Linked DNA regions of Homo sapiens: regions 2, 3, 4, 5 and 6 are each linked to region 1. Evidence: fine-mapped expression QTL. A gene starts in region 1. Each other region holds a variant in brackets. All regions are shown on one strand. Distances are between the middles of the regions. Region 1 holds the start of CAPG (capping actin protein, gelsolin like). Region 2 overlaps VAMP5 (vesicle associated membrane protein 5). Region 3 overlaps ELMOD3 (ELMO domain containing 3). Region 4 holds the start of ATOH8 (atonal bHLH transcription factor 8). Region 5 overlaps ELMOD3 (ELMO domain containing 3). Region 6 has its middle 32 kb from the start of PARTICL.

Region 1 (5,072 bases):
CTCTGCTAAAAATACAAAATTAGCCAGGCATGGTGGTGCGTGCCTGTAGTCCCAGCTACTTAGGAGGCTGAGGCAGGAGAATTGCTGGAACCCGGGAGGCAGAGGTTGCAGTGAGCCGAGATGGCACTACTGCACTCTAGCCTGGGCAACAGAGGAAGAATCTGTCACACACACACACACACACACACACACACACACACACACACAAGCCCCCTTATCCTTCCAGGCCCGTATCAAGCCCCAGCTGTCCAAGGAAACTTCCAGGACATTAAGTGGCCTCCGCCTTCTCTGGGAGTTCTCCCAGCCCTCTCCCCTGGGAGCACATACTTTAGCCTGTTTTATAGCATAAACTGGCTGCTTCACATCTCAACTGGAGCAAGGACACACCTGATGCCTCTGTTCCTCAAGCAGCCCAGCAAAGAGTCTATTCCATTCCACTCAACGTCTGTGCTGGGGGCTTGGCACTGGGGGTGACATGCACAGAGACAAAGAATAGCCCATGTTTTATGGTTTAGCTGCAGGGTGCAGTGAACAAGGGAGCCACCATACCCAGTGAAACCGCAGACGAACTTCCTCTAAGTGGGGAATGTCACAGAATCACAGATGTCAGCATTAGAAAGTGCTAAAGTTGAAGAGGGGAGCTGGGGCCGGGGGGGAGGAATAAAACAAAAAAAAGAAAGCGCTAAAGTTCTTATCTAGTCCTGCTCTGCCTGCACCGCCCTACACATACCCATACACGCATAGTGCAGAAATCTCTTCTATAGCATCCCTTACCATCCTCTTCTTGAAGGCTTCCAGTGATGGGAAACTCACCACCTTACCAAACAGCCTCTTCTACACCTCTTAAAGCCTTTACTTTTCCCCACTCTGCCATAGTGTGGTGAGTTATGGACCCGCCTACCTCCACTACTACACTGTAGGGTCCTTTAGGGCAGGAAGTGTATTTTGCCTCTGGATCTAGCTGGAACCTCATGCAGGTGCTCAAAGAATGCATTTGATTAACTGGACCTGCTGGGCTCTGATTATTAGACTGGGGTGGCACCTAAGGGATAGCCCAGGATTTCAAAAGGCTGGGACAGGCTGGAGCAGCCCCAGGAGGCAGAGAGCAGGGGCTAGGGGTCCCAGACTGCCATGGGGCTGGGGGAGGGGAGGACGCAAGTCCTGCTGGCTGTCCCATGGTCCTGACTTAGGCTGTCTTTGAGGACACACTGGGGGACCTCGGAGAGGAGGTCACCGTTACACACACCTTTAAGGAAAGACTTGACAGCCATCAGAGGGACAAAAATCCTGCCGGGGTCCAGTGGTACCTTTGCCTTCCTCAGACCCTGATTCCACTGACCCCCAATAGGTCTCTTCCCTTCACAGTCCCTGCTTGCCCCTAGGTGTGAAATGAAACAGCACCTCCACTTCTCCTGGTGGAGGTAGGTGCCCACCCTCGAAACCAAACTGAATCTCCCAGCCTGGGACATGGCATTCTCAGAATCTAGGTCCAGAGGCCTCATTTGGGGATTCCAAATGGTTTTTCCCCTGATACCAAATAGGTCTCCTACCCTTCCCCAGGGTCAACCACTTCCTCCCTCCCCACCTCCTACCTCAGACAGTCCACCTAGACCCTCAGCCAAGGTCTTCCAGAGTTTGCAAAATAATCAAATGTGCCACTTGCATTTGAATTCAAATGGCTAGGACTGCCCTGCCCCCTCCCCAAGCCACTCCCACCCAAATAGCATCACACCACAGTCCTGTCTTGGGGACAGGCAGCTTCTAATCTGATTTCACCTCCAGTCTGGCTGAGGGCCTTCAGGAGCAGTGTGGTGGCCTCCGTCAGGAGGTCTGGCACAGCTGGGACAAGCCCTGACCCAAGAGTTCCTCCATGTGCAGCATGGGCACAGCCCACCCATCCTCCCGGGCAGCTTCACAGCTGCCATCAGATCAGGTGCCTGGAGCCTGGCATAAGGCTGGCAGGACAGCAGGCTGGGGGAACTCCACCCTGGCACAATGTGGTATCCAGAAATGTGGGTCTCTGTTCCCAGGCCACCACAGCCAGCCCTCGCCTGCCCACCCAGGAGGGTACCAGCCAGCCGCGCTGGCAGCCACCCTGCCACCTTCACCTTTCAACACTCCTACTTTCCTTTCTTCCTCCTACCTCTGCTTCGTAGGTTCGTCTTCCTTCCAGCCTGCCCCACCCGGCTTCTCACTTCCCTCTTACTTCTCTGGCTGCCCCAACCACCAGCCCCACCCACCAGCCCCACCCCTGGGCTCCTTCCCCAGCCGGTGTGGAGGCGATGTCCCCCGACAGGGAGGGGCAGGCAGTGCTGGGAGGCCAGCAGGCCTGAAGCAGAAGAGCAGTCACTGGGGTGGGCAGTGGGTATGCCAGGCCGTCTCCTCAGAGGGGCACACAGGGAGGCTGGAGGTCCACACAGCCCCACCACAGTGGCCTCAGCCCGCTGCAGGTCACAGCCAAGGCAAATCAGGGAGGGCATCTCTGAGTCTGAGACCAGCAAGGAAAGCCATGTTCTCCATTCAGGGCCTGGGGCAGGCGCGGCACAGCCCCCACCGCTGCTGGGTTAGTCACATTTTCTGGGCAGGGTCACTGGCTTCACATTACTTTTTCCTCCTCCCTCAGTTTGTCTTTCTCCTTGCCCTGAATGCAAGTATTTGATTTTTTTTAAGATCAGTTTTTTGGTTTTTTTTGTTTTTTTTTTTTTCCTGAGACAGGGTTCACTGTCACGCAAGCTGGAGTGCCGTGGCATTATCACCGCTAACCGCAGCCTTGAACTCCTGGGCTCAAGCGATCCTCCTGCCTCAGCCTCCTGAGCAGCTGACACCACAGGCCTGCACCAACATGCCCGACTAATTTTTTTATTTTTTCTGGAGACAGAGTCTTGCTACTCAGGCTGGTCTAGAACTCCTGAACTGAAGCAATCCTCCCACTTTGGCCTCCCAAAGTGCTGGGATTACAGGCGTGGGCTACTGCACCTGGCTAAGCTCAGTTCTCAGGGAATGGCTGAGGCCATAAAACATTCTTCACCATCTTCCGCATGCCATGCTGATGCCTCTCAGGTCTCTACCCTTTGGTCTGCTTCTCATTCACCAGATGTTTATCATCATGACTTCTGGGCCCTGGGCCCTCTGAGAGACAGCCCATCCTGGGTTGACCCAGGGCAACTATCCTGCCTACATCACAGTCACTAGACCCTAGAGCTTGTCTCCTCCAACTCGCTGGCTTTCTGGAGGACACCGAGGTCCTGAGAGCACAAGAGACTGCCCACAAACACACAGGGAGTGGAAGCCCCTGCAAGGGAGGCTCCCATTCCCTTCTGAATCCCTGGGGGAAGGATGAGCGGACTCAGTATGAGGCTCCAGGAGAAAGTGAGCACCCAGTTATGCAGCCACACAAGCGTAGTTCCTCTGCCCAGAACCTAGCCGGCCTGTCCTGGAAAGGTATTGGTCAGCAGGCTGGCTTGAGACAAGGCTCCAGGTTCAGGGTCAAGGCCTGGGGACCCTGGAGCAAAATCTGGAACAAATCTTCCTAATTAGCAGACCTTCAAACAAAACCTCATTATTTGACTGCGTGGGAAAAGTCTGGAGAAAATACAGTACTGGATAGGCTGGGCATGGTGGCTGTCTCCGGTAATCCCAGCACTTTGGGAGACTGAGGCAGGCAGATTACCTGAGGTCAGGAGTTCAAGACCAGCCTGGCCAACATGGTGAAACCCTGTCTCTACTAAAAATACAAAAATTAGCCGGGCATGGTCATGGGTGCCTGTAATCCTAGCTACTGGAGCGACTGAGGCAGAAGAATCACTTGAACCCAGGAGGCGGAGGCTGCAGAGAGCCGAGATGGCGCCACTGCACTCCAGCCTGGGAGACAAAGCAAGACTCCATCTCAAAAAAAAAAAAAGCAATACTGGATGAATGTTTCTCATTGAAACGAAATTGATAAAATTTCACTAGAGCAAGACGGGAAGTTAAATCTTCTCCCCAAAGAACATGGCCTGTAGCTAGCATCCAAGTGTCTCCATGGCCAAACTGCCAGGCTTAAAAATAGGGTAATATGGGCCGGGCGCGGTGGCTCACGCCTGTAATCCCAGCACTTTGGGAGGCCAAGGCGGGTGGATCATGAGGTCAGGAGTTCGAGACCAGCCTGGCCAGCATGGTTAAACCGCCATCTCTACTAAAGACACAAAAAATTAGCCGGGGGTGGTGGCGCATGCCTGTAATCTCAGCTATTCAGGAGGCTGAGGCAGGAGAATCGCTTGAACCCGGGAGGCAGAGGTTGCAGTGAGCCGAGATTGCGCCATTGCACTCCAGCCTGGGTGACTGGGCAAGACTCAGTCTCAAAAAATAATAATAATAACAATAATAATAGGGTAGTTTGGTGGAGGGTGGGAGGAGGGAGAGATTCAGGAAAATAACTAATGGGTACTAGGCTTAATACCGGGGAGACAAAATAATCTGTACAACAAAGCCCCATGACACGAGTTTACCTATATAACAAACATGCACATGTACCCCTGAACTTAAAAGTTTAAAAAAGAAAAAAAAGGATAGTCTGGGTGAGAATCCCAGTAGGGCCTAGTCCCCACAAAACCACAGGCTGGGCGGTTAACCTGGTAGAGTGATAAGAGCTAGACAATTTGGCTCCTTACTAGCTGTGCAAGTGACTTAACCTCCTGGAGCCTCCCTGTGCCCCAATCTGTAACACGTGCATACAGTTAAATGTGAAGATGAAATGAGATCCTATGATTAATGAGCAAATAATACATGCTCGATAAACCCAGACTTCTTTCTCTTCCCTTTAGTTTGCAATGTGCCATCAGCACCTGAGGTAGAAATGTGCCTGGCCACTCCCCTAGCTCCCGGTTTCTCCACAGGAGGAAAGAAAGTTAAACCACAGAGCACTCTCCTATTTCCATCCCCAGCCCCAGCGCTGGAAAGCTTCATAGATTTTGGTCACAACAGCGCATACCTTGGGTGGCTCTTAAGTTCTGGACTCTGTGACCCACGGAGGGAACAAGGATCAATGGGAATCACTGTTCCTCACACTCAGCTGTCTAGGCTAAAGCCTCTCC
Region 2 (5,072 bases), 180 kb after region 1:
GCTGGCAGGAAAAGAAGCTTGCCCTTCTTGTAAGGAGGGGAAGGGAACAGGGATGGGCTGTGGGGAAGTAGGCTAAGAGGAAGGAGTTTCTGTGGTTTGCTAATCCACTGGTATTCATCTCCCTGAAATGTCCCTGCTCCTAGGCTTCTGGCTTATACCAGGGCCTCCTGCCTGGTGTCTCTCTCTGTTACGTGCACCCAAAGCCCAGTGCCTTTCTTGCACATGACCCAGACTTTCTCTCTCCCCTGTCATTTCAACCTTCCCCAGCTTGGATCCAAGACCTCCCTTCCCAGTCCTCTGAAATGAGCTGGTGTTTTCTGTTAGGCAAAGCTGCCCCCCAGGCTGGGAAATCCAAGAGTTAGTCTCATCTCTGTAAGTTGGACCCCAGTGAGGACCCCAGCTGAGTGGAAGGCTGGAGGCCAAAAACCGGTACCACTGAGGTTCCCAGACGGAGAGGGAAGTTGGAGCAGTGATATAGGGAGCAGGATCAGGCCAGGAGGCAGAACTGGCCTGACCAGTCAGAGGCCCAAAGAGGAAGATCTGAGCTTCTCAGTTTGGGGATAGAGGGGTTAGGCAGAGACTATGATGTGTGCTGCTTCAAAATTACCTTTCTAGCCTGTAGGGTAGGTCTCCTCCCTGTGTGTTCCAGCCAGGTAGCTTGGTTACCCATTCTTTGCTGCCTTCTTAGGCCAGTGGGAAACCTTAGGGCAGCTGTGCATTGATTGGGTAGACGCCATTCTGGAGCAGGTGAGAAAAGAATCAGCTTTGTGGGAGGGTGGGGTCCTGGGAAGATCCCACCTTGGGACAGCTTAGAGGAAGCTGAGGTGCTGGAAGCCGGGACTTACCTAGGTCCTAGGCCCTGCCTTGACGTGCAAGGGGAGGAGCCTGTGAGACTTAAGGTGTGCCGCACTCACCCCGAAGGCCAGACCTTCACTCCGCACACATCATACCCTTACACGAAGGATGCTGTTACTCTCATGCTGTACCCACCTACAGGGGGAGAAGGAGGCTTCTAGATCTCAGGGGCAGATGAGGGCCAGGTGGGGGCCTCATGCAGCCCTGACCTCGGGCTTGGTGTCCAGGCAGGAATAGAGTTGGAGCGGTGCCAGCAGCAGGCGAACGAGGTGACGGAAATTATGCGTAACAACTTCGGCAAGGTCCTGGAGCGTGGTGTGAAGCTGGCCGAACTGCAGCAGCGTTCAGACCAACTCCTGGATATGGTGTGAGGCCTGGGGGAGCATGGAGGGGAGGGGAGAGGATTGGGAAAGTCTCTCTTGGGCTGTATTCAGGATCTCCAGTTCCTTGGTGGGGTTGAGGCCTTCTTGAGGGCCAGTGTGGGGCCTCTGGGTTTCCTCAGGCACCCATAGCCTAGACATGCAACAGATAGACCCCACAAGATAAGAAGGCCTTGGTTTGAAGCTGTGGACCTTCTTAAAGGTAGAAAACTGGTATCGTTTTTTGTTTCTTTTTTACTTTGAGACAGAGTCTCACTCTGTCGCCCAGGCTAGTACAGTGGCACAATCATATTTGCTGCAGCCTCTACCTCCCAGGCTTAAGTGATCCTCCTGCCTCAGCCTCCTGAAGAGCTAGGACTACAAGCCTGCACCACCATGCCTGTCTAATTTTTGATTTTTTGTAGAGATGAGGTCTCACCATGTTGCCCAGGCTGGTCTTGAACTCCTGGATCCAAGAGATCCTCCCACCTTGGCTTTCCAATGTGCTGGGATTACAGGCATGAGCCACTGTGTCCAGCCTGAGTACTGGCATTGTTAACTGAGGGTGAGACACTAGGGCTGAAAGTCAAGGGCCACACCGGTGTTTGAGATGAGTCAGGCTGGGAGGGTTCCACGGCAGGTGGTATAGAAAGAGAGCAGACAAGGCCGGGCGCGGTGTCTCACGCCTGTAATCCCAACACTTTGGGAGGCCGAGGTGGGCAGATCACAAGGTCAGGAGTTCAAGACTATCCTAGCCAGTATGGTGAAACCCCATCTCAACTAAAAATACAAAAATTAGCCGGGCGCAGTGGTGTGCACCTGTAGTCCCAGCTACTAGGGAGGCTGAGACAGGAGAATTGCTTGAACCCGGGAGGCAGAGGTTGCAGTGAGCTGAGATTGTGCCACTGTACTCCAGCCTGGGTGACAGGGAGAGACTCCTTCTCAAAAAAAAAAAAAAAAGAAAGAAAGTAGACAAGATGGGGAGGATGCAGGAGGAGACTAAGCCTT[A/T]CTGAGATGGGGTTGGGAGGAGCTGGCTCCCAGGCCAAGAGGGTGCCAGCTAACTCCCACTTTGTGTCTGGGGGTATCCGCAGAGCTCAACCTTCAACAAGACTACACAGAACCTGGCCCAGAAGAAGTGCTGGGAGAACATCCGTTACCGGATCTGCGTGGGGCTGGTGGTGGTTGGTGTCCTGCTCATCATCCTGATTGTGCTGCTGGTCGTCTTTCTCCCTCAGAGCAGTGACAGCAGTAGTGCCCCACGGACCCAGGATGCAGGCATTGCCTCAGGGCCTGGGAACTGACCCAGCTGGTCCTGAAGGAGAAGCCAAATGGCTGCACTGGCCGATTCTGGTCTCCAGAGGACCTTGGTGTTTGCTCTCCCTTGACCCACCCCAGTGAGTGCCAAAGGGCAGCCCCAACATGTGCACCCCTGCATTTCCTGTCATGCCACAGACTGGCCCTTGAGGGCAGCCTGCTGTACTGGCCATGCTGGGCCAGCCCCACCTGGAGCTCAGTAAAAACTGCTGTTTGATTAAAAGCTGGTATCTGTGTGTGAAGGTCCCCAGGTTGGTTAATCCCATCTGTCTCTACCCCTAGGGCTGCTTAAAAAGCCCATCACCCAAAGGACTCCACCCCTGGGAGATGGCTCCTTCCTCTCCCTTCCCTACTTGATCCAGCCCGACACAGACAGGGAGTGTGGATGCAAGAACACAATGGCCCCCAAAGCAGACCCTTGAACCAGTCCTCCCCATCTGAGCCTGTTTCTCTGAGAATGAAATCTATTATTTTTCTGTCATCTTGGGGATGCTTAGAGGACCAATGAGACTGTAGATGCGATGACAAAGAAGAAAGCACTTCACCAATTTTTTTTTTTTTTTTTTGAGACAGAGTTTTTGCTCTGTTGCTCAGGCTGGAGTGCAATGGCACTATCTCAGCTCACTGCAAACTCCACCTCCTGGGTTCAAGCAATTCTCCTGCCTCAGCCTCCCAAGTAGCTGGGATTACAGGTGCCCACCATCACACCTGGCTAATTTTTGTATTTTTAGTAGAGACAAGGTTTCACCATGTTGGCCAAGCTGGTCTTGAACTCTTCACCTCAGGTGATCCACCTGCCTCGGCCTTCCGAAGTGCTAGAATTGCAGGCATGAGCCACCGCGCCTGGCCCAAAAAATTTTTCATAAGGCTCTCACCTTCAGATAAATGGTTTCCCCTCTGAACACTTCCCACTCCTCAATTTCTCTTTCCACATTCTATCTACCTCAAGCTTTACATCAGACTGCAGATGGGGGAAGTGACAGCAAGAGATGGGGACCTTAAAGCACTCCTTGGTATTCCCATCTCCCTCCCTCCCTTCCTTCCTTTTTCGACGGGGTCTCTCCTGTGTCTTCTCTCCCTCCCTCTTTCGACGGGGTCTATGTTGCCGAGGCTGGTCTCGAACTCCTGGGCTCAAGCAATTCTCTTGCCTTTAGTGCTGGGATTGCAGGCGTGAGCCACCATGTCCAGCCTGAATTCAGGCTTTTCAAAGCTACAGGGCCATATAGGCCAGGGAGGCAGTGCCTTCAGGGCCATAGCAAAGATCATTGGGCAAAGGCATGGAAGAAGGAAATAAAGCCACACCAAGACTGTGGAAACAGGGCAGCCTCTGCCTGGGCTACTTAGCTGCAGTTCAAACTCAGGTGTGAGTGGCAAGGGGAATTCAGGGTCAAGTGTGTAAAATAAGCAGTTCCTTGCTGGGTAAAGTGAGCGCTACTGACAGAAACCAGAATAAGCCTGAGTTGTGTGGAGCTTCACCCCTTACAGAGCGTGTTAGTTTTACTGAGCGCATTAGCGTCTTCCTCTCTTGGGAAAGATGGAGGAAAGCACTTGGCCCTGCAGCTGGTCTGCAACACCACTTACAGACTGCAAATTTGGGCAAGCCACTTCTGAGGTAAAAAGGGCATAATGACGCTTAGCTCCTGGGTCTATTGAGGGGATGATCGAGCGTGTAAAACATACATCAGACTAACAGTTCTAGATGCTAAATAGTACCTATCATCCAAATCATTGAGTGCAGTGGTTCTTAAACCTGCTTCACCTGCATAATTTATACAAGTGCCATTGCCCAGGCCCCACCACAGATCAGTTAAATCAGAATCTTCGAAGGTATCAGACACGGGTGTTTCTAAAGCTCCTCCGCGCCCATTCTCTCCTCTGGGAATTCATGTGTAGCCAGGAATGAAAAGGTCTTAGTACAAGCCAGCAGTTTTACAGAAGCTAGGGATAGCAACGGGCTGAAGGTAACAGTCCCATGAGCTGGTTGAGGCCCCAGGTTCTCCGGCAAAGAGATCTCTCTCAGTTGGGGAGGCTTGCCCCACCCTTTATTATTATGCCTAACACATAAGAAATGCGCAGGAATCAAACGCAAACTGGTGAACCAACTAGAGGGCCGCGGGGGCAGAAGTGTCCGGCGGGGATCCGGACAGCGCATCCGGAAGCGCCATGGGCCAACGCTCGCAGGAACCTGAACCCCTGGGCCAGCGCCGCCTTTGCTCGCAGAGGCCTCTAGCATCTGTACTGTCGAAGCCCTCTGAGCTTCAGGGCAGACTGAAGAGCCTTACACACCAGACACTTGGACGCGATCGCGCCAGAAATCCCCGGGAATTCAGTCTTGGCTCCGACTCCAAAACAAATGATTCCTCACCAGCCAGATCTCCATCATTGGCGTTAGTCTCTGGTCACCTGACTTGTTCAAGCCAATGAGAGGGGGCCGAATTAGTACTTCCGCTTTCCGTGCTGTTTAACGAGCCACTATGCCCGTCCCTCGGATACTCTGATTGGCCAGCCTCTCTCAGCTCGTCAGTTTATTGGCCAGCGCCGCTA
Region 3 (5,072 bases), 31 kb before region 1:
GAAGCATTGCTCGCTGCCACACCCTGTTTCCTCACGGTCTCTGTTACAGGAGCGAATCCAGCCACAGACCTGAGAGGCGCAGGCTTCCTTGCCCTCCTGCATCTGCTCTACCTGGTGATGGACTCAAAGACCTTGCCGATGGCGCAGGAGATTTTCCGCCTGTCTCGTCACCACATCCAGGTGAGACTTTGGTGGGAAGCCAGAGGAAAGGAAAGGGCCGTGGAGCTAGGACCTGAGTGGCCGAGAGGGCTCCCAGGACAGCTGAGATAAACCAGGAATGGGCTTCCCCGTCAGTCTGACCTGCATTGAAATATGAGCTGTACCGCTCATTAGCTGTGTAGCTCAAGCAAGTTCCTCGACTCCTCAGAGCCTTGATTCCCTCATCTGCAGAATGGAAATCATAGTGTTGTTAGAAATGCTTGTTCTTTGGTGCCGTAAAGAAATAGCACTTGAACATAAATTTAATTTCTTCAGCAAGGATTTTTTTTACTTTCTGCAGAAAGGGTACACTCACTAGCAGTTTTGCCACGAGAGTACACTGAATAAATGAGACAGGATCATTTATAACTTGACCCATATACTTTACTGCTGTGTCCGGTTTCTATTGGCTGGAATGGGACTTCACATTCGTATTTGTCTTGATTGGCTAGCAACTTAGAACTTTTTAAAAGAAGCAAAGGAAGAGGAGAACAAAGGAAGGAAGAAATAACTTGTGGAATGCTGAGAAAGGTAAAAACACCTTCAAATAAGGAAGAAGAATAGGCTATGACTTAATGCTTGCTTGGACCAGTATAAGCATGCCAGGGCAAATATTTAGGCTAAATTGTGGGAGCTAAGAACATAAAGTACAGTGACTTCTTCATTATGGCTAGCAGATATTTAAGAACGTTAGCAGAGGTCTTTGAATAAATTTTGCTTCTAAGAGAAGTTACTATTTATCTTAATTAGATGGGGAGGAAAGTCTTTGAAGAGGAACGTCTACTTTACTTTTTACAGTGTGACCCTGAAAATCTGAGGTCTCAGTTAATTTAGAAAGTTTATTTTGCCAAGGTTGAGAACACATGCCCGTGACACAGCCTCAGGAGGTCCTGATGATATGTGCCCAAGATAGTCAGAGCACAGCTTGGTTTTATACATTTTAGGGAGACATGAGACATCAATTAACATATGTAAGAATGAACATTCATTCAGTCCAGAAAGGCGGGACAACTAGAAGCAAAAGCGGGAGGACTCGAAGCAGGGAGGGGACTTTCAGGTCATAGGTAGATAAGAGACAAATAATTACATTTGAGTTTCTGCTTAGGGTCTCCAAAGGAGGCAATCAGATATGCATTTATCTCAGTGAGCAGAGGGGCAACTTTGAATAGAATGGGAGGCAGGTTTGCCCTAAGCAGTTCCTGGCTTGACATTTCCCTTTAGCTTAGTGATTTTGGGGGCCCAAGATATTTTCCTTTCACATTTTCCCCCTTTTCTTTTTTAAAATCTTTTGGAGAAAGCATTTTAGAAGAAAATGAATCTCTGGTCTTAGGTTTCATCTGATCTCTTACGGCTAGGATGGTTTATTCCTAGACGGATAGGTCCCCGAGTTATTAGGAAAGTTCATTTTTAGAAGGTTGTGAAGTCTCATGTCCTATGAAGAGAAAATACGGGGAGGAAGTGAAAACAACAACAACAAACAAAAGAACAATCCTGGATATCAATATAGGCCACATTCTTCTGAAGTCTATACATCAGTAGGCAGGTATGAAAGTGGCTTATGTATGTAAATAGGTTGCTGTTATTTTCTTCTGAAGTTGTCTGGCTTCAGTTTGCAGGGCTGTAAGAAAGTACGGCTTAATTTTCAGTGACTCCAAATTAGGAAAATGGAAAAAAAAAGGAGGAAAAGAAATTTAAAACATTATTTTGTTTTGTTTTGTTTTGTTTTTTTGGAGACGGAGTCTCGCTGTGTCCTGTTGCCCAGGCTGGAGTGCAGTGGCGCGATAGCACACTGCAGCCTTCGCCTCCCAGGTTCAAGTGATTCTCCTGCCTCAGCCTCCTGAGTAGCTGGGATTATAGGCACATGCCACCACGTCCGGCTAATTTTTGTATTTTTAGTAAAGACGGGGTTTCACCATGTTGGTCAGGCTGGTCTCGAGCTCCAGACCTCGTGATCTGCCCGCCTCAGCCTCCCAGAGTGCTGGGATTACAGGTGTGAGCCACCGTGCCTGGCTGAAAACATTATTTTGAAGACTTGTAGCCAAGAAAAATTAGAATTCAGCCCAAACTGTAGAAAATTATTAAAATTGAAAAACATTAGGCAAGACTAGGATCTAATGACAGGTGTACTATAGTTTTTGAAACATAATTTTTCTTTCTCCAGTTTCCTGTTTTTACTAAAGACAAATCATGGTAGGACCGATTTGCTTTATAATACTTAGCCAGATTATTT[G/A]TATAAAGTACAGCAAGAATAGTTATTTTTCACATAGGCTTTTTTTAAAAATTGGCTTTGATGGAACTTTGTTATATAGAAGGAATCTCAGGCAAGACTTTTTTTTAAAGCCAAGCCTTGCCATGGATTTGTACCATCAAATATCTATGAGTTGGGTGAATTTCCTCTCCTCTTGAGGTTCCAGGATAAACCTGGGGCTCCTGGGCCTGCCATAAAGTAACATTCTTTACTTAACACAAGTCAGAAACCCTGTTCAGGGACTGTGTACACAAAATATGAGGCCAGTTTCCCAAGGGCGTTATTGGCTTCATAAATCAAGTTTGAGTTCTTAAAAGAAATGACATGGTTCCAGTCAAAGCCTTGGTAAAATAATTAGTTTCTCCAGTTGTGTCCTATTAGCAGTGAAAACAGATTCTTATTGTATTTATGCAAATAACTGTATTGCCATAAATTAAGAATACTCACAAATAGTTTCCAAATTCTGGAGAACTCAGGTAGAGAGAAACAAATATGTTCCAAATTTTGGTCATAGCAGTATACTAAATTGTTAAAAGCTGTCAATAGCTCAAAAGAGAAGTTTGAAGACTCTGAAAAACAAAACAAAGGATCAGCAACGTTTTAAGCAAAAGGTCAAAAAAATTAGTTCAATCCATGCAGTTAATTCCTGTTCTGCTTTGATATTCATGAACATTTTAGCTCTCCATGAGTCTGAAAGTTTTTCCTCTATTCTGATGTCACAATCTCCAAAGTTATCAGAAACCTGCATTCAAGAGCCCCTGTTAGAGTTTTAAGATGATGATTATTATTTATTTATTTATTTTTAGACTACTCTTGCTCTGTCGCGCAGGGTGAAGTGCAAGTGGTGCAATTTTGGCTCATGGCAACCTCCACCTCCCAGGTTCAAGCGATTCTACTGCCTCAGCCTCCGAGTAGCTGGGATTACAGGCACCTGCCACCACACCCAGTTAATTTTTGTATTATTAGTAGAGACAGGGTTTTGCCATGTTGGCCAGGCTGGTCTTGAACTCCTGACCTCAAGTGATGTGCTCGCCTCAGTCTCCCAAAGTGCTGAGATTACAGGCATGAGCCACCATGCCTGGCCTTTTATAGCTGATTATAAAACCACCTTCTAAAGAGGACCAAACAACACAACAATTGTCTGTGGATGACAAAAAGTTTTAGGGAAGCCATTGTTGAAGACCCAGTTGACAAGGAAATTTGTTATCTCTGTGGCACAGAATAATTTAACATAACAATTATAATTATTACTGATAATGTACACTAAGTTATATCAGAATTTTAGGAGTTTCCCATAATTTTGGAACACATACCAATAACACATTTATACAAATACAGCCCAAAGAAAATCGTACACCATTTCATATTTGACAATGCTTCCTGTATAATTTTTATACCAAATAAGCCAAATTATGTCATTTTTGGACTTTATGGAGCCTAATATCTTAAAGGATTTATCAGGTCAGAAAAAGACATAATTTATGATTTGATTTTGGAAAGTTTGTCAAATATCAAAGGTTTAAAACTTGATATCACAAAATAGGATCACAGGTCATTATAAGATAAGTCATTCTTTTAACCAAAGCAATAACTCAAGGATTTCAAAAAGAAGGTGAAAATCTCCATTCCTTGAGAGCGGAGACTTGATTTTTCAATCAATAAGCCCTAATAAAAACAGCATGAAGCCAATTAAATTTATTTTTCAAAATTTTGTAAACAATCTATAAAATTTTAATCTTGACCATAAGATATAACTTCCATAAGCCTTTTATAACCTTTATAACCTTTATTAAGGGGCTGGTTAATGCTTCAAGAAAATCTTGTTAATCTGATGCAGGGGCTCATGTGCTGCTTTTGCATCAGTGTGCCTTTGACATTCATGATTAATTTATAAAGAAACTTAACCTATTTTATCTTTAAAAAATCAGCTCTTGCAATCTCATGCACCCACCTCTTCCGCAATAGTCCCTGGGCCTTGAAGAGTTGAGTAGCTTTAATTTCTGGCCCCGTGTCTTAGGAATGCAGTTTATTCTGATTGGCATCTTCTACCAGGCCTGAAGATGAGGCTTTAATTGCTGTCAATGTTTAAGATTTGGGCTGGGCGCGGTGGCTCACACCTGTAATCCCAGCACTTTGGGAGGCCGAGGCAGGCAGATCGTGAGGTCAGGAGATCAAGACCATCCTGGCCAACACGGTGAAACCCCGTCTCTACTAAAAATACAAAAAATTAGCTGGGCGTGGTGGCGGGTGCCTGTAATCCCAGCTACTCGGGAGGCTGAGGCAGGAGAATGGCGTGAACCCAGGAGGTGGAGCTTGCAGCGAGCCGAGATCTTGCCACTGCACTCCAGCCTGGGTGACAAAGCAAGACTCCTTCTCAAAAAAAAAAAAAAAAAAAAAAAAGATTTGGCAGGACATAGGGCTGGGTGCAGCGGCTCATGAGTGTAATCCCAGCACTTTAGGAGGCCGAGGCGGGCAGATCACGAGGTCAGGAGGTCAAGACCATCCTGCCTAACGTGGTGAAACCCCGTCTCTACTAAAAATACAAAAAATTAGCTGGGTGTGATGGTGGGTGCCTGTAGTCCCAGCTACTCAGAGGCTGAGGCAGGAGAATGGCATGAACCTGGGA
Region 4 (5,072 bases), 340 kb after region 1:
AGTGACTTTCCCAAGGTCATTCAGTGAGTGGCAGAGCTGGGGTTTGAGCCCAGGAAATCTGCCTCAAGTAGCTGTTTTGCCTCAATAAATAATACTAACAACAACCACAGCTACCATTTGACGACCCGTTCCTATGTGCCTAGTGCTTTAATTCCTCAGAGCAATGCTGTGACTTAGGCGTTGTTCTCCGAATTTCTCATTTCACAGATGAGTAAATCCCGGTTTAGCAGGGCGCCTGGAGTGAGGTGACTGCGGAGGCTCGCAGACGTTAGGTCTGCCTAAATCCGAAGCTTCCACCCTCCTCTGCCTCTGTGACTTGCTGCGTGACTTTGGAGCTTTCGGAAACTCAGTTTCCCTGTCTTAAGCCCTCTGCTCCTCTTGCTTTCCCGCTCCAGCAAGTGAGAGTGGACTGGGTTGCCGTGCCGGGCGGGTGTGGGTCGCCGGGCAACTCCGGAGTCTCCCCTTCCCCATCGGCCCCCAGCAGAAGTCCCAGCTCCCGGCGTTTTCTGTCTCGTGGCGAGTTGGGGCGGAGGGAGCGGCGGGAAGGTGCCGGGTGGGCAAGGTCGGAGCTGCGTCACCGAGAGGCCGGCAAGGCCAGGGAGAAAAGGCCCCGCTGTGATTTGGGGAAGGGCCGGGGGCCCATAAGTCACGTGCTCGGGGCGGTTGTGCAGGAGCGGACTGTCCTCTGGGAACATAGAAGCGCCCCCGACTAGAGTAGGGGCGGGGAGGGAGCGCCGGAGGAGGCAGGTTCTGGGCCAAGGGGATGGGGGTGGGGGGGAGGTAGGGAGCCCGCGGACAAAGGAGGCGGCCGGCGGCCCAGCTGTTTTGAAAAATGCTTCCTGTTTCTTTAAAGGCGCTCGCGGCTCGGGCGGCCCGGGCTGGGGAGGCGGTGGCGGCGGGAGCTGCCTCCTCTCCGGGCGGCGGCGCTGACTGATCTCGCGAACTGGGCTTCTGTGTAAACTGAGGCTAAACAAACACAGATGGAGCGCAGCGGGCGTTCTCCAGAAATGCTGGCAAGGAGGCAGCGACTTCAGATGACACTCTGAGCGCTCCGGGAACGGACAGCCCGGCGGCTTCCCGAAGCCGGCGGCGCAGCTGCCCGGGGCGAGGGGGAGAAAGGGAGAGAGGGAGGGGGAGGGCGGGCGAAGCGGGAGAGCCAGAGACTCCTCGGCGCTGAGCGCGGCGGCGGCCCGGGCAGCCCCACGCCCCTGCCTCGCGCGCCGCCCGCGCCATGAAGCACATCCCGGTCCTCGAGGACGGGCCGTGGAAGACCGTGTGCGTGAAGGAGCTGAACGGCCTTAAGAAGCTCAAGCGGAAAGGCAAGGAGCCGGCGCGGCGCGCGAACGGCTATAAAACTTTCCGACTGGACTTGGAAGCGCCCGAGCCCCGCGCCGTAGCCACCAACGGGCTGCGGGACAGGACCCATCGGCTGCAGCCGGTCCCGGTACCGGTGCCGGTGCCAGTCCCAGTGGCGCCGGCCGTTCCCCCAAGAGGGGGCACGGACACAGCCGGGGAGCGCGGGGGCTCTCGGGCGCCCGAGGTCTCCGACGCGCGGAAACGCTGCTTCGCCCTAGGCGCAGTGGGGCCAGGACTCCCCACGCCGCCGCCGCCGCCGCCTCCTGCGCCCCAGAGCCAGGCACCTGGGGGCCCAGAGGCACAGCCTTTCCGGGAGCCGGGTCTGCGTCCTCGCATCTTGCTGTGCGCACCGCCCGCGCGCCCCGCGCCGTCAGCACCCCCAGCACCGCCAGCGCCCCCGGAGTCCACTGTGCGCCCTGCGCCCCCGACGCGCCCCGGGGAAAGTTCCTACTCGTCAATTTCACACGTAATTTACAATAACCACCAGGATTCCTCCGCGTCGCCTAGGAAACGACCGGGCGAAGCGACTGCCGCCTCCTCCGAGATCAAAGCCCTGCAGCAGACCCGGAGGCTCCTGGCGAACGCCAGGGAGCGGACGCGGGTGCACACCATCAGCGCAGCCTTCGAGGCGCTCAGGAAGCAGGTACCCGCTCGCCGCCGCACGCCCTCACTGCGCCGGGGGACGACTGCGGGAATGGGTGGGCGAGTGGCCGGGGCGGGATAGAGGTGTGTTTAAGGGGCAAGCTGCCCCGCCCGGTCCGACCCTGGTGCCCAGACAGGTGTGGGCAGTCCTAGGGTATGGATCATAGTTTTCAAAGTGGCTATAAGAGTTGGTTATCTCTGGCCCGAGCACCCCCCGCCCTCAACCCCCGCCTCGGGGGTAACGCTGTCTGCGCTTCTGACTTCAGCCTCCATAGTTCACTTTTATGGCAGCGAGTATTTGCCTGCCGGAGTCCCCTGGGCGCGGTGCGGAGTGGAGAGGGGAAATGTGGGAATCTGTCAGCGGAGGAAGGGGGGAGCCTTCTCCAGTTGGTGGTGGCAAGGTCCGGAACGCTGCGGTGGGACAGTCCGGGGGAGTTGTCAGCCCCTCTTCAGGCCCCAGCGGTGATGCCCCGAACACTCAGGTTGCTTCCGGGCTATGCACTCCTTGCCCTGGCATCCTCAAGAACCCGCGCTACAAGCC[T/C]GTGCCCTCTCCCCAGGGGTGGGCTCAGGAATCGGCTGGTGGGAGTCTTTCTAGCAGATCCCTTCCTTTCACCCGTGGTGAAGCAGGCAGCTCTGCCGAGGGGACTGCCTAGGTTGGGGATTCCCTCTGGAGCATCTTCAGAGCCTAGTTCTGGGGTGGGTCCGGGACTTTTTAGTTTGGGGCTGGTGCGGGCTGCCCTCACCAGACAGTGCCCCTGCGCAGGTAGCGGAAGAATACTTAACCCAAGAATTACCCGTGGTGGGGCGGGACAATCGCTTGGGCTTCTAGGCTTCTTATTTTCTTAGCGAGAAGGAGCTCTAGGAAGGAGGTGGTGAGTTCTCTCCCACCCCCACACAGGGCGTGGGGAAGGGTTAGGGTAGATGTGGCTGGTTTGAAGGGTGTTTTTTTTTTCTTTTTATTTGCATACTCTGCAGCTGACTTGCTGTGTGACTCCAGGAATGTTGCTCAACTTCTCTGGGCTTTATCCAGCAACAAAACATTTCAGAAACCATGATCTTCTTTTTGGATCACTCTCCTCTTCCTGCTGGGGGTTGGGGTGGGGTGGGGCAGTAGTGCCTGTGTCCATCCATGGAAAGGAAATTGAATCCTTGGAGGAAAGAGGCCCTATGACTTTTGAGCCAAAGTGTCTTGCTTGGGCTTGGGGAAAGTGGTCAGTGAGGTGGGGTGGGGGTGGGGGTGGGGGACGGGTGGCTGTCACAGACCAGGCTGGGCCTCTGCCCTCATCCACACCAGCTGGAACCCTGGGCGGTGGGTCCAGTGGAGCAGTCAGTCCCACCCTGAGCCAGCAGCTCTGTGTCTGCATCGCTGGGTAGAGGTGGCGGTGCGTGGGGGATCCTGCAACCCACTCCCCAGGACAGAAGGATAACAGAAGGGCAGAGAGATGCCTGTCCACCTGCCCACCTTGCCACTAGGGAAGCCCCTCCTAGACTGGGGAGGCACGTGCCCAGAGCCTCATAGCTGTTGAGTAGCAGGTCAGGGCTGGCACCTAGGGGCTTTGACTGCAGGTTCTGGGCCCTTGTGCTCCTCTATTGCCTCTGTATGCTGAGAGAATACTCATCTGAGTGCTTTGTTACATCTCATGTGCCCACTGACTTTTACTTCATTCAACAATCAATTCCATCTCATTTGATCTAAACATAATCCCTGTCGAAATTGGATTAACTCATTTTATAGTATGGAACACTGAGGCCCAGAGATGGAAGGAGACTTGTCCAAGGTCACCTAGTGGGTTAGGGAAGATAACAGCAGTTTCTGGAATGCCCTCCTGGCCAAATGCTTCCCACAGTGCCATCTGTATCAGCGTCATGTGCCACCCCCCCAGCCCCCAGCCTGTGATGTTTGTTAACAATCAAGGCAGGGTGCACACTTGGCAGACCCTTTGAGATGAGATTGTTCATCCTGGTCTCCTTTTACTTCCCCCCTTACCGTGGGAAGTTCTCTATAAAAAGGGCAAGTTCAGTGTATCTAAGTAGAAGGCACACCCATGCCCTCTCAGGGAGAGCGTGTGTATGCAATGCAAACACACAGGCAGGTACACACACACATGCTCCTTACACGTGCTCAAGAGCACACACAAATGCATGGTCACAGAAGCACCTGTTCCTGTTTGTTTCCTCCTTGCCCTAGCCATTCTGCCCCTTCCCCAGAAAGGCTGCCAGGCCATAGTGGGCACCTGCCTGTTAGCTGGGAAGGAAAGAAATACAGCCAGGACGTTTCTGGTCATAGAACCAGGGGCCAAGGCCACACCCACCATGTCCTCCTCACCACCATGGCACCCATTCGATAGAGGAAGTCCTGTGTTCTGGAGGAGCCCCTTCCTCCTCTGGGCCTCAGTCTTCTCTGTAAAATGTACTCCGCACCCCCTCCCCGAATCCAGACGAGCTGCAGCTCTGGAGCTAGGCTCGGGCCTGACTGAAATGGGTCCTTGGAAATGGACAAAAGGCAGATCAGCTCCGCCTGAAATGGGGCCTTGGCCAGTGTGGCACTGAGATGGGTTCTGGGATTGTGGCTCTGGCCTGGGGCTTCATTCTCCTGAGCAGCTTCCTGGTACCATGAAAGAAGCACTGATCTGGGAAACTGGAGGCCAGGCATTGAGTTGTTCCTCCCCTGCATGCCTTCTGTGTGGCTGTGGACAAGTCACTGACCCTTTCTGGGCCTCAGTTGCTGAAGTTGTAAAATGGTAATATTGCTGACCTCATCCAGTGTTGAGAAGAGAAAGTGAGGAAAGGTAGGAGGCCTATAAGAGCAGTGAACATTTCTTTCATTTCATTTTTTTTTTTTTTTTTGAGACAGAGTCTCTTTCTGTTGACCAGGCTGGAGTACAGTGGTGTGATCTCAGCTCACTGCAAACTCCACCTCCCAGGTTCAAGTGATTCTTCTGCCTCAGCCTCCCGAGTAGCTGGGATTACAGGTGCGCACCACCACACCTGGGTAATTTTTTGTATTTTAGTAGGGATGGGGGTTTCACCATGTTGCCCAGGCTGGCCTCGAACTCCTGGGCTGAGGTGATCCA
Region 5 (5,072 bases), 52 kb before region 1:
ATTGTTGGAACCAGGTCTAGTATTATAAGCCCCTGACCCAGCCTGTGTGTGAGGCCTAAACAAAGCCTGAGCACTTCAGCTAAGACCACCCACCAAGGTGACACCTTTAGCCTCACGCCTTTGATAAGCTGGCCCAGGTCCCAGTAACTCCATTGTCAGAAACAGACCCCATCCCTTCTAGTGGTGCTGCTGCCTTTTGGACACAGAATCCAGCTCACAGTCCCCTGTGTGGTCCCCTTTTGGCCATCCTGTGGCTTGGGTAGTAAGAGGTAAGCATTTGGCTGAGGCAAGTTGTTCATTCAGAATAAATTCACAGCTGCTTAAATTTTGTCAACAGGCCGAGCGTGTTGGCTCATGCCTGTAATCCCAGCACTTTGGAAGGCCGAGGCAGGCGGATCACGAGGTCAGGAGTTCAAGACCAGCCTAACCAACATAGTGAAACCCCATCTCTACTAAAAATACAAAAATTAGCAGGGTGTGGTGGCGCACGCCTGTAATTCCAGCTACTCGGGAGACTGGGACAGGAGAATCGCTTGAACCCGGGAGGCGGAGGTTGCAGTGAGCCGAGATCGCACGGCTGCACTCCAGCCTGGGCAACAGGGCAAGACTCCAACTCAAAAAAAAAAAAAAATTGTCAACAGAGGCATAACTGAATGGTGAAACCAGTTTTCTTTTTCAATTTCTTTTTTTTCTTTTGTGCAGAGCTGAGGCTTCGAAGACCTCAGAGGACTTCTCTCAGCACTCACAGAAACCTCCTACACCCTCGGATGGCACAAAGGGACTGTTTTCTTACTCTTAGTCTGAGTGACTGCCAAGGAAGGCAAAGGTAGAGCAACTGGATCTCTGGCTCTCCACATAGCTTCTGATCTCAGACCTTACTAAAATGCTTTCTGGGCCCAAGGACAAAGCTCACATGAACAAATGATTTTGAGTCATGAATGAAAAATCTTGCTCTTTCCATAGTAAAGAAGAATTAAGAGATGGACAGGTAAGCATGCACTCTTATTTGGGAAAGGTGGTGTTGGTTTGAGATATATCATTAAGTATAGTAAGAATATATTAAGAGAATATTTGGAAAAATTTAGAAACCCTCATTATAGTTCTCTTTGTTCTGTAAGAAGGAGCTTCTATTCACCTCAGGGTCAATTGCTTTTCCTAATAGCTTGTTTTGTAAGTGAGTTATGAGATTTTTGTTTTCTTTTTGCTTGGGTAGTGGGGAGAATTTCATTGAGGAATCACCCAAGAAATCTGTATTTCATTGATTTGGATCATTACCTTACTAGCCTCTTCCCTGTGAAACGCTTGCTTTGGCCTGATCATCCTCAGGACTCAGTTCAATGTGATATGTCTTTGTATGAGCCGGGCAGCTAACCCTACATGCCTTACCTTTCACACTACTTTGCCCACCCAAAAATGGTCTTAAATGGAGGCTGTGGGATTCAGTGGCCAGACTGGGACAAAGCCTTTGCTTTGGGTCTCCAGAAAGATTTTCTTCACTGTAGTAATATGCGAACTGTTCCAAAGAGGGAAGTCTTTGGACACTGGAGGGGACTGAATTGGAGAAGGAAAGGAAGGATGAAATGAATCTCAGGTACACAGATGCCTGCAGGAAGTTGTTCAGCACAATGAATCACCAAATATTTTAGAGATAAAATTTCAACAAAAATTTGAGAAATATATTTTGTGCTTAGTACTGTGCCAATGGTTGTGAAACATATAAAAGAAATATAAGAGCCTGGAGGCAGTGGCTCACGCCTGTAATCCCAACACTTTGGGAGGCTGAGGTGGGCAGATCACTTGAGGTCGGGAGTTGGAGACCAGCCTGGCTAACATGATGAAACCCTGTCTTTACTAAAAATACAAAATTATCTGGGCATGGTGGTGCATGCCTGTAATCCCAGCTACTCAGGAAGCTGAGGCAAGAGAATCGCTTGAACCCAGGAGGCGGAGGTTGCAGTGAGCTGGGATCACACCATTGCACTCCAGCCTGGGTGACCAAGTGAGACTCTGTCTCCAAAAAAAAAAAAAAAAAAAATGAAAAAAGAAATATAAGAGAAGGTCCTTATGCAGGCCTTTTGCAGAGGAACTTTTGCTGCATACAAGGGTTACTGGACTTAGAGGTGTGAGACAGCATTGTAGCCCCAGCTAGTAAGGTAGGTTGCCTTGAGTAGGTGGAACTGACCTTGATCAGAGAAGAGAGTGGAGGTGTATTCTGGAGGAAAACTACATGAACAAAGGGATGGAAGTGAGGAGAGGGATCTGCAGCAGGTGTGTTGATTGCATTACAGTGGGAAATAAATGCTTAGCCATCATGAGCTCCTTTACCAGGGAGCTTGGTCAGCTGTGAGGTGTTTTGGCCTCCATCCTTGCATCTGGAACATGAAGAAATGAAAGTTGTGTTTAATGAGCATTAGTTGGAAAGGCAAAAAAAAAAAGCAGAAGGATTAGAGTAACAGGATGATCTGGGATTCCAGGGCCTTGGCATAATACATTCACATGGTTCAAAATGCAAAAAGTACAGAACGATATATGTATTGTGAAGAAACCACCTTCCACCCTTGTCCCCCCAGCCACTCAGTTTTTCTGCTGGAGACAAAGCTACTGCTTCCTTGGGTATAACTGTGAAAATGGTCTCTGCAGAGACAAGCAAATGTGCTTATGTACTTTTAAAAAATAAAATGGTAAAATAGTGTATAGACTCTGTCCTTTGCTTTTTCACTTAATACATCACGGAAATTGTCCCATATTGCCTGTAAAGTAAAGCACTTTCTCATTTGTCTTTATGGCCAT[A/G]TAGTATCTCACTGAGTGAATGTGCTTTTATTTATGTAAATCAGCCCATTAATGAACATTTAGGTTTTTCCAGCCTTTCCCTATTATAAACAGTATGACAAAGAATCACACTATAAATGTAAACATGTCGGTTTTGCACATGGATGAATATATCTGTTAGATAAATTACTAGAATGCAGTATCAGGCCCCGCATGTACAAAACATGTATGATTTCATTAGGTACTATCAAGCTGTAGAGGTGGTAACAGTTTACTCTCCAGTGTGTTATGCACTCTGGCCAATGTACATGTTATCAGACTTTTTGATCTTTGATAATCTGACTAATGAAACACAGTAGTTTTACATGACTCTTTTTTTTTTTTTTTTTTTTGAGATGGAGTCTTGCTCTGTTGCCCAGGCTGGAGTGCAATGACGCGATCTCGGCTCACTGCACCCTCCGCCTCCCAGGTTCAAATGATTCTCCTGCCTCAGCCTTTCGAGTAGCTGGGATCACAGGTGTGCACCACCACGCCCGGTGTGCTAAAAATACAAAAAAAATACTTTTTTGTATTTTTAGTAGAAACAGGGTTTCACCATGTTGGCCAGGCTGGTCTTGAACTCCAGACCTCAGGTGATCCACCCACCACAGCCTCCCAAAGTGCTGAGATTACAGGTGTGAGCCACGGTGCCTGGTGACGTTTTTCTGTTTTGCTTTTTTTTGTTTTGTTTTGTTTTAATGAGTGAGGTTGAACATTTGTTCATATGTTTAAAACCAATTTGTGATTGTGCAGGATGGCTCGTGTCTGTAATCCCAGCACTTTGGGATGTCAAGGTGGCTTGAGCCCAGGAATTTGAGACCAGCCTGGGCAACCATATGTAGACCCCATGGCTACATGGGCATGGTGGTGTGCACCTGTGGTCCCAGCTGCTTGGAATGCTGAGGTGGGAGAATCCCTTGAGCCAAGAAGTGAGTGAGCCATGATCGTGCCACTATGCCCCAAGTGGGGCAACAGCGCGAGACTCTATCTCAAAAAAACCCACATGGAGAAACCCCGTCTCTACTAAAAATACTCTACTAAAAATTAGCAGGGCGTGGTGGCGCATGCCTGTAATCCCAGCTACTCAGGAGTCTGAGGCAGGAGAATCACTTGAACCTGGGAGGCATAGGTTGAGGTGAGCCGAGATTGCACCATTGCACTCCAGCCTGGGCAACAAGAGCAAAACTCCATCTCAAAAAAAAAAAAAAAAAAAAGCCACCATTTCAGTTACCTTTTGTGTAAACCATCTATATCCTTTTTCTAATGTTTCCACTGGGTTGGTTTTTCTTTTTTTTTTTTGAGATGGAGTCTCACTCTGTTGCCCAGGCTGGAGTGCGGTGGCGTAATCTCAGCTCGCTGCAACTTCCACCTCCCAGGTTGAAGCCATTCTCGTGCCTCAGCCACCTGAGTAGCTGAGATTACAGGCATGTGCCACTACATCCGGCTAATTTTTGTACTTTTTAGTAGACATTGGGTTTCACCATGTTGGCCAGGCTAGTCTTGAACTCCTGACCTCAAGAGATCCTCCTGCCTTGGTCTCCCAAAGTGCTGGGATTACAGGCGTGGGCTACCACACCCGGCTGGTTTTTCTTTTTTGCCTTAATGATTTTTTTTTTCTCTGAGATTAAACTTTATTAAAGTTACTTTTCCAGAAAATTCAGTGAATATGGTAACATAGGAACAAACTTAGGCTCATAAGCCCTTTACATTTTTACATAATCTTTAATGATGTTGATCAGGAAATTCTTTCACTGGTAGAATTACTTCTCCATTCTCCAGAATTGTATCATCTGGGAATATTCTGGGCTTCTTTTCAATGGTGCCATATGGTTTTTTTAGATACATGATACTTCTTGGTGCTCTATATGTTCAGAGAAACTTCTCTAGTAACAAACTATAGAAATGATGATTTTTTATTTTTTAAACAGTAGAGACAGGGTCTCCGCATGTTGCCCAGGCTGCTCTCGAACTCCTGGGCTCAAGCAATCCTCCTGCCTCAGCTTCCCAAAGTGCTGGGATTGTAGCTGTGAGCCACCACACCTGGTGATTTTTAGGATTTTAAAAGAACACGTTGAAAAATTAGCTCTGTATCTGTGAAATGAGTTACAAACAATTGGCCGAGTATTTTGGTCGGTTTTTTGTTTTTCATCTGTAGCAGGGGATAGGTTTGGCTGAGCAGAAAGGCCATAGGAAACTGCTTCACTAAACTTCGCTCACTCAGAACCCTCAGACTTTCAAAGAGCCAGGAAATCGGTATAAAATTT
Region 6 (5,072 bases), 97 kb after region 1:
CACCAGCACTGCAACAGTGCCTGACACATAGCATGTGCTCAGTGATATCTGTTATATGCATGAATGAGTGGGGCTGGACTGTGAGCTGATGAGGTTCTTGCCATGGCTAACTCCAGGCAGTCATGTCATTTGGCCCAGTTCCACTCCCTTCTGGGCCTGACTCAATTCATCTGGGTAATGAGGAGGGCACAGGAGCTGCTGCGTAAGCTGCCCTCCAGCAGTAATAATTGATGAGTCCAGGCAGTATCCACTTACCACGCCAAAGAGGTCCAAGCAGCAGGCAACAGGGGAAGGGAGGCAGGAAGCAGCTGCCAGGATGACTAATTGGGATCTCATGTCATTGGCTCCACGTGCCAATCCTTACAGACCTCAGCAAAGCTCAGGACTATTAGCTCCTGAGACTCATGCAGTCTCCTGGTCTGACCTGTCCCTCAGTGACACTCGAAAAATAACTCAGCCAGGCGTGATGGCACACGTCTCTATTTCCAGTTACTTGGGAGGCTGAGGTGGGAAGATCACTTATGCCCAGGAGGTTGAGGCTGCAGTGAGCCCTGATCACTCTGCTGCATTCCAGCCTGGGCAACAGAGCAAGATTCTGACTCAAAAAAAAGAAGAAAAAGAAAGAAAAAGAAAAAATAACTAATAACTTCATCTTACAGTGGTGACACGGAGACCTGGAGCAGGAATACAGAGATGTGCCAAACTTTGTACAGAAATTTTGCAAAACTAGATTCAGCTCTCATTCCACAAATACCAGGACCTCCCCTGCACCAGGCACTGTTCTAGGCAAGGACAGAGCAATGAAGAGGGGAAGCTCCTCACCTGTGTTTCCTCGTGAGGCCTGAAGCGCCTGCTTTCCCTTCCACCTCCTGCTCTCCAGCCTCTTAAGTCCCCTCACTCTGTGGTCAATCTAATTGGATAGAACCCTTTCATCTCAAAACCAAAACAACAGCGACCCATGCACACTCCTAGTAGACCAATGGGACTGTAGCACTGATTTCACCATATGCCCCTCCTGCATCCCAGGGACGTCAACTCTGCACTTCAGTCCAGCTTTCAGGAAACTCCAAATCTCTCCCCCATTCCCACCTCTTCCTGTCTATGGTCCCACTGTGAGCCGATAGAGTTCTCACCACGGCTGACACCAGGCAGCCATGTGGTTGGGGCCAGTCCCATTCCCTTCTGGGCCTGATTCAGTTCATCTGGCTAATGAGGAGGGCACATGAGCCTTCTGTGCCTGTTGGGCCGGCTGCCTCAGTGACCACTGCCAATTGTGTGTTCCCCTTATTCAGCACCTTCATACCTTCTTCCGGTTTTGCCCATCTGAGCTGAATCAATTCCTCCATCTTCACAGGGAGGTAGCCTTCTCTCAGTCCCCAAACCCTTGATAAGGGAACGCACCACCACCTCGCAGGCCTGCCTGACTTGAGTGCATCACAGTTCTCCACCTAATTATTTGTTGTCCCGGATTGTTTCATGTATGTATGTCTGATCTCTCCATAAGACTGTAAACTTACTGAGGGCAGAGATGACGCTTACCTTTCCATATCCTACATGCTTTAGCCTGGTGCCTACTCACTGGGCAATCCATCAGTGATGAGTTTACCTGGATTTACTAATTCGTGATATTTACAAAGAATACATTTGGGAAAATGTGTATTTGTTTACAGATGTTAAAAGGAAAACGTAAAATACAAGATTGTATGTACAGCTTGATAATCACAGTGTCAATTACGTGTTCATATGGGTAAAACTGGAAGGCAATTGGTAAAAATAAAGAGTAGTGTGAGGGCTGTTAGATTATGAGTGATTTGTTTAAATAATCTGTGAATATTGTTACTGCACTGTTTATGCATTTGAAAAGCCTTTTTTTTTTATCCTAACCAGTAGACCACCAGGGATAAAATGATTTTTAAAAATACATAGAGGGCTTTAAGAGTCATTGAAACATTCCACTCTTGGATGTAAGCTCATTAAGTCTTTCTTAGTCAGCAACTACTAGGGAATGGGAACAGGGTGGGTGGGGGGCTTGGCAGTCTTTTAGAGACTTTACTCACGGAATATTTATACACAAATAGCTGAGCAAAGGAGGAAAACTTCTCAAAGTTGATTTTTTTGCCTGCAAACGTTAATTCCGTGGGGAAAGGACAGAAAGATAAACAGTTTAAAATAACCAAATGAAATCATGTGAGCTTGTAAAGATTTTTTTTCTCTCTCTCTCAACAAGGATGGGATGTCCATGAAGTCCTCTCGGAGCTTCCCGGATTTTTTGTGCTCTGAAGCTCCAGCAGTGGGGAGCGGGGCTGAGAGAGGGAGATGGGTGATGTGGCGCCCATCCCTCCAGGCAAGGACTGCCCTGGCACAGCTTTCCTCTTGATTCCCTAAC[C/T]GCTCTTTACATGTTTATTTTATCTCTATCAGACTATGGGCTCTCACAGATGAAGACCATACTCTTCCTGCAAAACACTCGGTCCCACAGCACATGTAATATCTAAGAGGAACCTGAGAGGTCACTGGTCTAATCCCCTCATCAGACAAAAGAGGACCAGACTCAGAGAGAGAGGCACGTGCCATAGCGACACAGCCAGTTTCTTTGGAGGCCTGGTCTCAGCTCTGGACTGCTCAAGCCTATCCTTGACAGTGGCACTGCTCAGCCTGGACATTTAGAGTGTCCTTCTGATACAAATGTATTGAGTCTCTGCCCCTGAGCTAGAAAGATGGCAAAACAAAGATAAGAAAAGGCCAAAAAACCAAGCTCCCTAACATTAAGGATATTATAATTCAGAGGGAAAGATAGGGCACTCTCACAGACAACTAGAATACAAGCAGAAAGTGAGGATGAGTTGCAAGAGGCATACACCTAGTTGGGAAAGAGCCTGCTGGGGAGATGGACCAAAAAGGGCTCCACTGGGATTAAGCCAGCCCTTGAATGGGGATCAAAATAATGCAAATGAAGTCAGAGGCACTGAATCAGTTCATTTATTTAACAAACACTGACTACCATGTGCCAAACAAGGATCTAGATACTCAGGAAACACATCTCTACTAGCCTCATGGAGCTTACATTCAAAGAAGGGTAGGGGACAGGCACTAAACAAAATATATAAGTAAAAGTAGGTTAGATAGGCTGGTGGGAATGTAAAATGATGCAGCCATTATGGAAAGCAGTATGGTGGTTCCTCAAAAAATTAAACATAAAATTACCACTTGATCCACCAATTCCACTTCTGGGTATATACACAAAAGAATTGGCCGGGTGCAGTGGCTCATACTTGTAATCCCAGCACTTTGGGAGTCCGCGGCGGGCGGATCAGGAGGTCCGGAGTTCAAGACCAGCCTGACCAACATGGTGAAACCCCATCTCTACTAAAAATACAAAAATTAGCTGAGCGTGGTGGCGCACGCCTGTAGTCCCAGCTACTTGGGAGGCTGAGGCAGGAGAATCGCTTGAACCTGGGAGGCGGAGGTTGCAGTGAGCTGAGATCTTACCCCGGCACTCCAGCCTGGACAACAGAGCGAGATTCCATCTCAAAAAAAAAAGAATTGAAAGCAGGGACTCAAAGAGATATTTGTATACTCATGTTCATAGCAGTATTATTCACAATAGCCAAAAAGTGGAAGCAACTCAAATGTCCTTTGACAGATGAATGGATAAACAAACTATGGCATATACAGACCATGCAATATTATTCAGTCTTTTTTTTTTTTTTTTTTTTTTTGAGATGGGGTTTTGCTCTTGTTGCCCAGGCTGGAGTGCAATGGCGCAATCTCGGCTCACTGCAACCTCCGGCTCCCAGGTTCAAGCAATTCTCCTGTCTTAGCCTCCAGAGTAGCTGGGATTACAGGCGTGCACCACCACGCCCAGCTAATTTTGTATTTTTAGTAGAGGTGGGGTTTCACCATGTTAGTCAGGGTGGTTCAAACTCCTGACCTCAGGTGATCCACCCGCCTGGGCCTCCCAAAGTGCTGAGATTACAGGCGTGAGCCACCACGCCTGGCTAGTCAATCTTAAAAAAGGAACAGAATTCTGGCTGGACATGGTGACTCATGCCTGTAATCCCAGCACTTTGGGAGGCTGAGGCGGGTGGATCACCTGAGGTCAGGAGTTCAAGACCAGCCTGGTCAACATAGTGAAACCCTGTCTGTACTAAAAATACAAAAATTAGCCACGTGTGGTAGCATGCACCTGTAGTCCCAGCTACTCAGGAGGCTGAGAAAGGACAATTGCTTGAACCTGGGAGGCGGAGGTTGCAGTGAGCCGAGAGATTGCGCTACTGCATTCCAGAATGGGTGACAGAGTGAGACTCCACCTTAAAAAAAAAAAAAAAAAAAGGAATGAAATTCTGACACAAGCTACCACATGGATAAACCCTCAAAGACACTGTGCTAAGTGAAATAAACCAGACATAAAAGGACAAAGATTGGCCAGGCTTGGTGGCTGGCCGGGCGCAGTGGCTCATGCCTGTAATCCCAGCACTTTGGGAGGCTGAGGCGGGCAGATCGCCTGAGGTCAGGAGTTCGAGACCAGCCTGGCTAACATGGTGAAACCTCGTCTCTACAAAAATTAGCAAGGTGTGGTGGCAGGTGCCTGTGATACCAGCTACTTGGGAGGCTGAGGCAGGAGAATCGCTTGAACCCAAGAGGCGGAGGTTGCAGTGACCCAAGATCGCACCACTGCACTCCAACCTGGGCGACAGAGCAAGAATCCATCTCAAAAAAAAAAAAAAAAAAAGAGAGAGAGAGAAAGATCCTAGTGTTACAGTTACATGAGGCACCTAGTGTAGTCAAATTCATAGAGACAGAAAGTAGAATGGTGGTTACCAAGGGCTGGGGGGAGTGGGGAATGGGGAGGTAGCGTTCAAAGAGTATAGAGCTTCAACAGTTGAGGAAGATGCAAAAGGTCTGGAGATGGATAGTGGTGATGGTTGCACAACAATGTGAATGTAATTAATGCCACCGAACTGAAAACTTACAAACTATTAAAATGGTAATTTTTGTGTGGTGTATATTTTACCACAGTGAAATAAGTAAATAAAATAATAGGGAAGGGAGTAGGTTAGATGGTTTAAGTGTTA

What was found.
Region 2: its variant is fine-mapped to the expression of CAPG in whole blood (TOPMed, PIP 0.92).
Region 3: its variant is fine-mapped to the expression of CAPG in whole blood (INTERVAL, PIP 0.90).
Region 4: its variant is fine-mapped to the expression of CAPG in amygdala (GTEx, PIP above 0.99).
Region 5: its variant is fine-mapped to the expression of CAPG in unexposed skin (GTEx, PIP above 0.99). The same link has a PIP of 0.9 or more in anterior cingulate cortex, breast, nucleus accumbens, pituitary and thyroid.
Region 6: its variant is fine-mapped to the expression of CAPG in lymphoblastoid cells (GEUVADIS, PIP 0.92).

The regions. Positions count from the first base shown.
Region 1 is chr2:85,408,174-85,413,245 of GRCh38, forward strand. CAPG (capping actin protein, gelsolin like) reads right to left here and starts at 2,193. Exons shown (of 10, transcript NM_001747.4): 1 at 2,144-2,193. RefSeq lists silencers at 2,211-2,260, 2,371-2,420.
Region 2 is chr2:85,590,643-85,595,714 of GRCh38, forward strand. VAMP5 (vesicle associated membrane protein 5) reads left to right here. Exons shown (of 3, transcript NM_006634.3): 2 at 1,083-1,220; 3 at 2,306-2,764. The coding sequence ends at 2,515. Among named protein-coding and RNA genes, the nearest start is that of RNF181, 2.6 kb to the right of the region's middle. RefSeq lists enhancers at 2,050-2,551, 2,552-3,051 and a silencer at 4,995-5,072. The variant A/T (reference allele first, on the strand shown) is at 2,223.
Region 3 is chr2:85,377,295-85,382,366 of GRCh38, forward strand. ELMOD3 (ELMO domain containing 3) reads left to right here. Exons shown (of 14, transcript NM_001135022.2): 11 at 50-180. Among named protein-coding and RNA genes, the nearest start is that of ELMOD3, 25 kb to the left of the region's middle. The variant G/A (reference allele first, on the strand shown) is at 2,429.
Region 4 is chr2:85,752,959-85,758,030 of GRCh38, forward strand. ATOH8 (atonal bHLH transcription factor 8) reads left to right here and starts at 1,033. Exons shown (of 3, transcript NM_032827.7): 1 at 1,033-1,999. The coding sequence starts at 1,232. The variant T/C (reference allele first, on the strand shown) is at 2,540.
Region 5 is chr2:85,356,265-85,361,336 of GRCh38, forward strand. ELMOD3 (ELMO domain containing 3) reads left to right here. Exons shown (of 14, transcript NM_001135022.2): 4 at 703-988. The coding sequence starts at 935. Among named protein-coding and RNA genes, the nearest start is that of ELMOD3, 4.0 kb to the left of the region's middle. The variant A/G (reference allele first, on the strand shown) is at 2,791.
Region 6 is chr2:85,504,823-85,509,894 of GRCh38, forward strand. No RefSeq gene overlaps it. Among named protein-coding and RNA genes, the nearest start is that of PARTICL, 32 kb to the right of the region's middle. The variant C/T (reference allele first, on the strand shown) is at 2,387.